Linked DNA regions of Homo sapiens. The protein of the gene in region 1 purifies or fractionates together with the protein of each later gene. This does not show direct contact. Each region holds a gene or a part of one and is shown in the gene's direction. Other genes may lie near its edges.

Region 1 (3,909 bases):
CCGTCTCTGCCAGACCCTGGTGGCTCCCAGGCTGTGGGGGCGGTGGAGGGGGTGGTGCCACGTGTGGCTCTGTGGACGGCTCCGACGACCCTGACAGTGTGCTTCTCTCCCTCCAGGTCGTGCACACACACAAGCCGCACTTCATGGCCTTGCACTGTCAGGAGTTTGGAGGGAAGAACTACGAGGCCTCCATGTCCCACGTGGACAAGTTCGTCAAGTAAGTCTAGGGGCAGGTGCTGGTGCATGTCCACTTCCCAGGGGTGTGGGGTGCCGGCGGGGGTCTTTTCATGGTACTATGATCACCAGCCTCACCATTCGGGACTCACCTGGGGGTCATCTTGGCTGAGTCTCAGTTTTCCAAAGAGAGGAGTGGCCCAGACGTGTGGCCACGAGCCTCCTTGGGGCGGCGACAGAAGGCCACGGAGTGACAGCCTGCTGCCTCCACACGGCGAGGGTCTGTGCTCTCGGGCCAGGGGACGTGAGCCCCAGATACCAGTGGAGCCGTCTCCGTGTGTGTGTGTCTGAGGCCTGGGCCTGTGGTGGCCGGGGTTCACATCCCACTGCGCAGTCTGTCTCAAGGAGGTCGGCAGGGAGCGTCTATCCTCCTTGGGGGCGAAATCTCCATCGTTTAGGAGGAAGGTGCCCCACGTGTATTCCCACTGTACATGCCCTGAGGCTTCTGACAGGGCCGGCCCAACTGGGTCCTGCCTGGGAAGAGGGGGCGCCCGGACCTGGGGCATCCAGGAGTGGACAGGAGCAGGCAGGGGCAGGCAGGCTTGTGTTCAGACATGGGGCCTCCTATAGGCTGTTGCTAATAGTGGCTGCTGTATTTTCCCGAGGCCGCAGCCGTGAAGCCCGCCCTCTGTGTCCCCTACAGTGTGGCCTTGGCACATTCCCATGTTGGGGGCTCGTCTCCACCTCCAGACCCTGGGCAAGCCCTGGCTTCTTCACAGCATGAGGGCTTCTGGGACCAGCCCCCAACATCGCAGAGCTTCACAAAGCTGCCACACTCTGTGGGCCGACGCCGCTGCCACGCTCTGTGGGCCGACGCCGCTGCCACACACTGTGGGCCGACGCTGCTGCCACGCTCTGTGGGTTGACGCTGCTGCCATGCTCTGTGGGTCGATGCAGCCACCCGGAGTCGGGACCTGTGGGCAGAGCCGTCGAGCCCTCCCGGCCTGGTGCCAGTGTGAGTGTGAGCGAGGCTTCAGGCGATCCCAGCCGCTGCATCCTTGCTGTGACATAAGCCCTCCGTGTTGAACTCCCAGCGCAGGGTCCTCGAGCAGAGCAAAGTGGTTTCAGCTGCTAAAAAAAACTGCCACAACTTCCCAAAATAATCTGTAATTTAAGGCATTTTTTTTTTCTTTTTTTTTTTTTGTTTTGAGACGGAGTCTCGCTCTGTTGCCCAGGCTGGAGTGCAGTGGCGTGATCTGAGCTCACTGCAAGCACCGCCTCCTGGATTCATGCCATTCTTCTGCCTCAGCCTCCCGAGTAGCTGGGACTACAGGTGCCCACCACCACACCCAGCTAATTTTTTTGTGTTTTTTTAGTAGAGATGGGGTGTCACCATGTTAGCCAGGATGGCCTCAATCTCCTGACCTTGTGATCTGCCTGCCTTGGCTTCCCAAAGTGCTGGGATTACAGGCATGAACCACCATGCCTGGCCAGTTTAAGGCAGTTTTAATCAAAATCTTAGCGGCATTTTTCCTAACACTCAACAAACTAATACTAAAATTGCCATATAAGAGCAAAGGGTCAAGAATAGTTAAAAGAATCCTGAAGGAAAACAAAGTGGGTTCTCACCCAGCTCGACCCCAAGGCTCATTCCGAAGAAGCAGTGGGGCAGGTGGCATGACGCAGGCCCGGAGAGGAGAGCGGATCGAGGCAGGTGCGCAGCCCAGAGAGTGGAGAGCGGAGTCGAGGCCCCACCCAGACCCTCGCGGCTGCCTTGGAGGAGGGTGGGTGGGGACATGGGCTGGGGCACGGCATCATTGGTGTCCTGTTGGGAAAAATGAAATTGGATCCCTGCTTTGTGTCATAAGCAGCCACTTCTCACTCACCCTACATAAGATGAATTTCAGTTGTATTAATTATATAAATGTAAAAGGCAACATTAAAAATTTCAGTCTAAAATATAGGAGAAAATATAGTTTTGGGATGAGAGATTTCTTTTAAAATGTGCAGGAAGTGCAGCCTACAGAATGGAAGGCTGAAAAATGTGGCCATGTTTGAACTAAGCATTTGCTTATGAAAAGGCACTCAAAATGAAGTCACTCAAAATGAAGTCACTCAAAACAAAATCAAAATTCAGCCACTTCGGGAAAAGATATCTGCAGCACACCTTACTGACAAAAACGAGTGTTTAAATATATGAAGAACTCAGTAAGTCGGTAAGAGAAGGAAAGCAGCCCCTGTTGGGAAGCACCTTCCAGAGGAGAGAAAGTGGGGGTGCACCCTGAGCACGGAGGACGCCGCCCTCACAGCAGGCGGGGACACCGCAGGCCGGACGGGAACGATGCCGCCGTGTTTGGTGTGAGAGCTTCACAGTGGAGTGTGGCCCCCACGGCCTTGTGCCCCCGCGATGCCGTGTGTGTTTCCTTCCTCCGCGCTTTATGCCTAATGTACAGCGTTATGATTTTTGCTTTAAACAATTTTCTTTTTAAAAGATTAAGACGTGAGAGAAACGCCCTTGGTGTGGACCAGTTCACTGGCTTTCAGTGCCCTCCGCCCTTTTGTGTGGATTCTGCTTTTTATCTGGCACCCTTCTCTCTCTGCCTGAAGAACGTTCTTTAACATTTATTTTAGCACAAGTCAGCTGCTCATGAATTTTCTCAGCTTTTGTTTATCTGAAAAAGGTCTTTGTCCTCATTTTTGAAAGCTGTTTTTGTTGTAAATAGAATTCTAGCTTGTCAATTTTTTTTCCTCTCACTACTTTAATGATATCGCCCCATTGTCTTCTGTATTGCATTGTTGCTGGCGAGAATCTCGCCATTGTTCTCTCTTAATTTTCTTGTATATAATGTGCCCTTTCCTCCACTGCTAGGTTTTGTCTTTATAGCTGGTTTGCAGCAACCTGATTATGTTGTACTTTGCTTTGATGTTCTTTATGTTTATCTTGCTTGGGGCCGTTTGAGCATTTGCAGTCTGTGGGTTTATCGTTTTAATCAAATTTGGGGAAAATTTGTCCTTGTCCATTATTTCTTTAAATACTATTTTTCTTTTCCTTCCCTTCTCTTTTGTTCTTAGGCTCCAGTTACCTGATGTTAGATTGCCTGGTTCTGCCCCACAGGGCCCTAAAGCTCTTCTGATTGTTTTCAGCTCATTTTCCCTGTGTTTCGGTTTGGATCGCCTCTGTTGCTGTATTTTTAAGTGGCTGGGCTCTTTTCTGTTGCAGATTTTGATCTTCTCTTAGGTCCATGCAGTCAGTTCGTTTTATTTCTGACATTGTGTTTGTCCACTCCTTCCAGAAGCCTCACGTGTGCTTTCCCTGTCCTCGCTTTTCCTTCCGTCTGTGCGTTCCTTTCGCTGTCTGGTCACAGTTGCAATGACTGTTCCCAGTTGCTTTCAGCTCACTCCGTCATTTTTGCCTCTTCCGGGTCTGTTTCTGTTGACGGCTTCTTCGTAGGATGACGGGACACATTCACGTGGTGTTGCTGCTTCTCATATCAAGTTATTTTCCGTAGGATGGCAGACATTGCGAATGTTACGTTGTTTAGTGTTTGAGCCCTGTTTTCTTCCTTTAAAGCGTGTTGAAGGTTGTGTTTACCAACAGTTAAGCCACATGGGGATCAGTGTGGGTCTGTCAAGGCATTCTTTGCCTTGCCCTTCTCTACTGGTGCAGTTTTATTTTCTTCAATGTGGACCCCCCTTCTTCCTGACACATGGACTGGCTGGATCACAGGGTGCTGG
Region 2 (3,909 bases), on another chromosome or scaffold:
AACTCAGTTCTCAAGCTGTCAGTGGCCTCCTGTGGCACGGGAACCGTAGGCTGACGGGCCTGGCTCAGGACAGCCTGGCAGGAGGCACCTGCCTGCCCCGCTTCAGCCCCATTGGACACACAGCTCGCCTGCCTATCTCTGTGCATTGGCTCACGCTGTTTGGGCTTGCACGGACAGCACCTCTGTCTCATATGGTTGCAGTCCTATGGCCTTTGGTGCCTGGTTCAAGTGTAAACTCTTAGACAAAGATAGACCAAATCTCTTCTTTCCTCCACCCCTTTCCTGTCTTCCTGCCCCAGCCAAAGGAATCTTCCCCTTCCTGACTCTCGTAGCATTTTATAACTCAGCTACATATGAATTTGGTTTTGTGTGTATGTCTTTTCTTCCTTGTCAAATTCTAAGCTTGTTTTGGTGTATAGACCATGTCATGTATCTTTGCATCTCTACCACACATAGCAAGGTGCCACACACATGTAATTAGTACATGTTGGTTGAATTAATCTATGTCAGGTGACCTTAGGTCTTCTCTAACGCAGAGACTATTTATTTGTGTGCCTTTTATTATGTGTCTACTACCTGCCAGGTATTATATATATGTAATCTCATTTAGAAAGCAGAATTTCGCATTTTCTTTTTTTTTTTCCCCCTTAAGTGATGGTCGGTGAAACTAATGTGAAATGTTATAAAGGCAGAGATACTGGAATTGAAGGAAAAAGAATAATTATCTATGTGTTAGTTTGGGTCATCCAAAAAACAGATGCCAAGATAGGATTAAAAGTACAAGAGATTTACTGGGGGAAACACCTGCAAGGGAAAATGGGGCTGGGAGCTGGAGGCTGTTGGCAGAGTTGGCAGACCCCTGTGGAGGAGGAAAGGCCGGGGGAGCGGGGAAGTTTTCCACTGGAGTGTGGTGCTGAGAAAGTTTCAGCAAAGCCATTGGGGAGCCAGTGCTGCCCCTCAGACGAGTCCCTCCCATGCTCAGGCATTGGCTGGAAGCAGCAGGTGGGAAGGGTGGCCTCTGCATGAATGTGCTGATGGATTTTAGAGTGCAGCCACTCTGTCCCCTGCATTTGGAGAAATACATCTTCATGACTGCCACACCATAGAATCAACCAAGCTAAAAGTTCAAAGGTGGCTTGTGGCACACAGGCCCTTTAGCCAGTTAGGCAAAACGAGGGCCTGGGAAAGAGAATTCTTCCTCTCGTCGGCAGTTTGAATATTTGCAGTCTTAGCTTGGAATGGTCTTTCTGCACTAGAGGGAAACCTCCTTTAGTGCAGACCAGCCTAAAGCCAAGCCATTGCTGCCTGAGGAAGCTGCCATCTCTGGAGCACGGTGACATGCCACCACCCTGGACCTATTCCCATCCCCCGGAGCACTGTGGCATGTAGCCTCTTCGTGCCACTGCAAGGTCAGAAAGCACCTCTGGGCACACCTCCGTCTTTTGGGTCTGCCTCCCCACTAGACTGAGCATTGTGCATAGAAGCTACTTTTATTCTTTACATCCCAGTGGCTTACATGATAGATGCCAAGTAAAATTTCCAGTTTGTACTTTAAATTGTTTTTCTGGCACTGGAGATGGGCTTGCAGTGATCCCTCCATCCATGTAATGGCCCTGGGCTCAGTGGACCATCCAGAGTAGGCTTCTCCACCATGGAGCTGCCCCTCCTCAGGAGTCTGATGTGAGTGGCTCTTGATACTCATTCTCACTTCACTCACTCCATATCACAAGAGCCAAGGATTTCCCAGTACCAACATTTTCTTGGGCTGCTTTTGATGGTTTTTTTTTTCCCCCTTCCTGTCCTCTTTTTCCAACCCCAGAACAAACTGCCAGCGTTCCTGGTTGGTGTTGCTAACTCAGGTCACCCTGAGGCTGCCCTGTCTTTCTCTTGCTTGTTGTGAGCCCCTCCCTCTACGCCCATGTGCCCGAGGCTGTGCCGCTGCCTTGTGCAGGCACCCAGGGTTTATGCCAGTGATTTCCTGACACAAGCAGCAGCACAGAACGTGTGTGTCCCAGGTTTAGGTTTGGGAGGCCTGCCTGGAGAACAGCCATCCCAGGTTCTGGGAGCTTTCTCAATTTACTGTTTTATCCAAAGATGGGTTGGCCTTTCTCTGGACATAGTGAGCTTCCTTGGGCTAGTTCTTAAGCCTGAGACTAAAAGTTCTCACCATGAGTTATTAGGGAGGCCTGTAAAATGTAAAGGCCATGCGTTTTTTTTGCTCTGTTACCCAGGCTGGAGTGCAATGGTATGATCATGGCTCACTGCAGCCCTGAACTCCTTGGGCTCAAGCAATCCTCCTAACTCAGCCTCTGCATAGCTGTGACAACAGGTGTGTGCCACCACACCTAGCTAATTTTTAAATTTTTGTAGATACAGGGTCTCCCTATGTTGCCCAGGCTGGTCTCAAACTCCTAGGCTCACATGATCCTCCTGCCTCAGCCTCCCAAAGTGCTGGGATTACAGGTGTGAGCCACTGCACCCAGCCAAGGCCATGCACCTTTAAGTTCTTTACCTGGGCTTTACTCTAAGATGGGAGGCCTCAGAGTGAGAAAAGCTGCTAAGAAGTGGGAAGGAGCCTGTACCTCTGGTGATTAGGGATTTCTCTTTTCGTCCACCCCCATTCTCACCTCCACTGGAAGTAGACCTGTAAGAAAAATTAAAGCAGTTTAGAAAGGGTTGAAACTGTTTATTCACCCATCCCTGCCAAAATTTTCTGGAACATTCCTAGTTTCAGATGTTCCTTATATCTTAAAACAGCATAAGAACTGTTTTTTGTTTTTAAAAAAAAAATTTGTAGAGATAGAGTCTCACTGCGTTGCTCGGGCTGGTCTTGAACTCCTGGGCTCAAACCCTCCTCTTGCCTCAGCTTCCCAAAGTGCTGGGAATACAGGCATGAGTCACCATGCTTGGCAAGAACCGCTGGCTATAGACCATGACTTTTTTTTTTTTTTTTTTTTGAGACGGAGTCTCACTCTGTCACCCAGGCTGGAGTGCAGTGGCGCAATCTCAGCTCACTGCAACCTCTGCCTCCCAGGTGCAAACGATTGTCCTGCCTCAGCCTCCCTAGTAGCTGGGACTGTAGGCGTATGCCACCACCCTCAGCTGATTTTTGTATTTTTTGTAGAGATAGGGTTTCATCATGTTGGCCAGGCTGGTCTCGAACTCCTGACCTCAGGTGATCCACCCATCTCGGCCTCCCAAAGTGCTGGGATTACAGGCGTGAGCCACCACGCCCATCCTATATACCTCACCCAAGTCGTGTAAATAAAGCCTGAAACTTGGGAAGAGGAGGCTGGACTATTGAGGTCTTATTGAGGTTGCTGTGCAAATCAAGATGATCCCATTTCTAAGAAATGGCTAGTCTGGTATAGAAGCTAAGGATTTGTTTAGGAAAGCAGGAAGCTCTTGAATATGAATCCAAGCTCAGTGGAAATGGGCTGAGTTGAATTACATTTAGCAGGTGGCTGCTGCCGTTCTAGAGAGAAGAGACTTGGAGGGACCTCTGCCCTCACTACCAGGCAGACCTGGCTTGGCAGGGTGCCTTGAGCCTCACTGGAACAGCAGTTGGTTTTCCCAGAACTCACCCCAGAAGCCTGTGTCCTCTGATAGCACTGGCCAGTTAGGACAGGAGGCTTTGATTCCCAGAGAGAGCCAGCAGGACTCCACTCTCATCTATGCAAGCACAGGCTGAGGGTGGATGGCATTAAAGTGACTGCACTGCTGAGTGGGGAATAGGGGCTGGGAACTCTCCTGGAAGCTTTCATCATATTAAAAGTAGGCATTTCTTTAACTGCAAAGAGATACTTTTATATTTTGTACTCAGTGGTAAGGCAAGATTAATTGGTACCTTCCTGCTTCTGTTCATTCCTGTATTCATTTGAGTTTTTGCTTTTACATTACAGGTAAATT

Evidence for each region.
Region 2: the proteins of INPP5A (region 1) and TTC1 purify together in Homo sapiens (affinity purification with mass spectrometry; 2 studies listed by BioGRID and IntAct, with this or other methods). This does not show direct contact.

The regions. Positions count from the first base shown.
Region 1 is NC_000010.11:132,645,752-132,649,660, forward strand, and holds part of INPP5A (inositol polyphosphate-5-phosphatase A), read left to right. Parts: intron 1-116; coding exon 117-217; intron 218-3,909. UniProt on the Homo sapiens protein: Phosphatase that specifically hydrolyzes the 5-phosphate of inositol 1,4,5-trisphosphate to inositol 1,4-bisphosphate, and inositol 1,3,4,5-tetrasphosphate to inositol 1,3,4-trisphosphate. Plays a crucial role in the survival of cerebellar Purkinje cells.
Region 2 is NC_000005.10:160,061,030-160,064,938, forward strand, and holds part of TTC1 (tetratricopeptide repeat protein 1), read left to right. Parts: intron 1-2,512; exon of another isoform or gene 2,513-2,627; coding exon of another isoform or gene 2,628-2,644; intron 2,645-3,902; coding exon 3,903-3,909.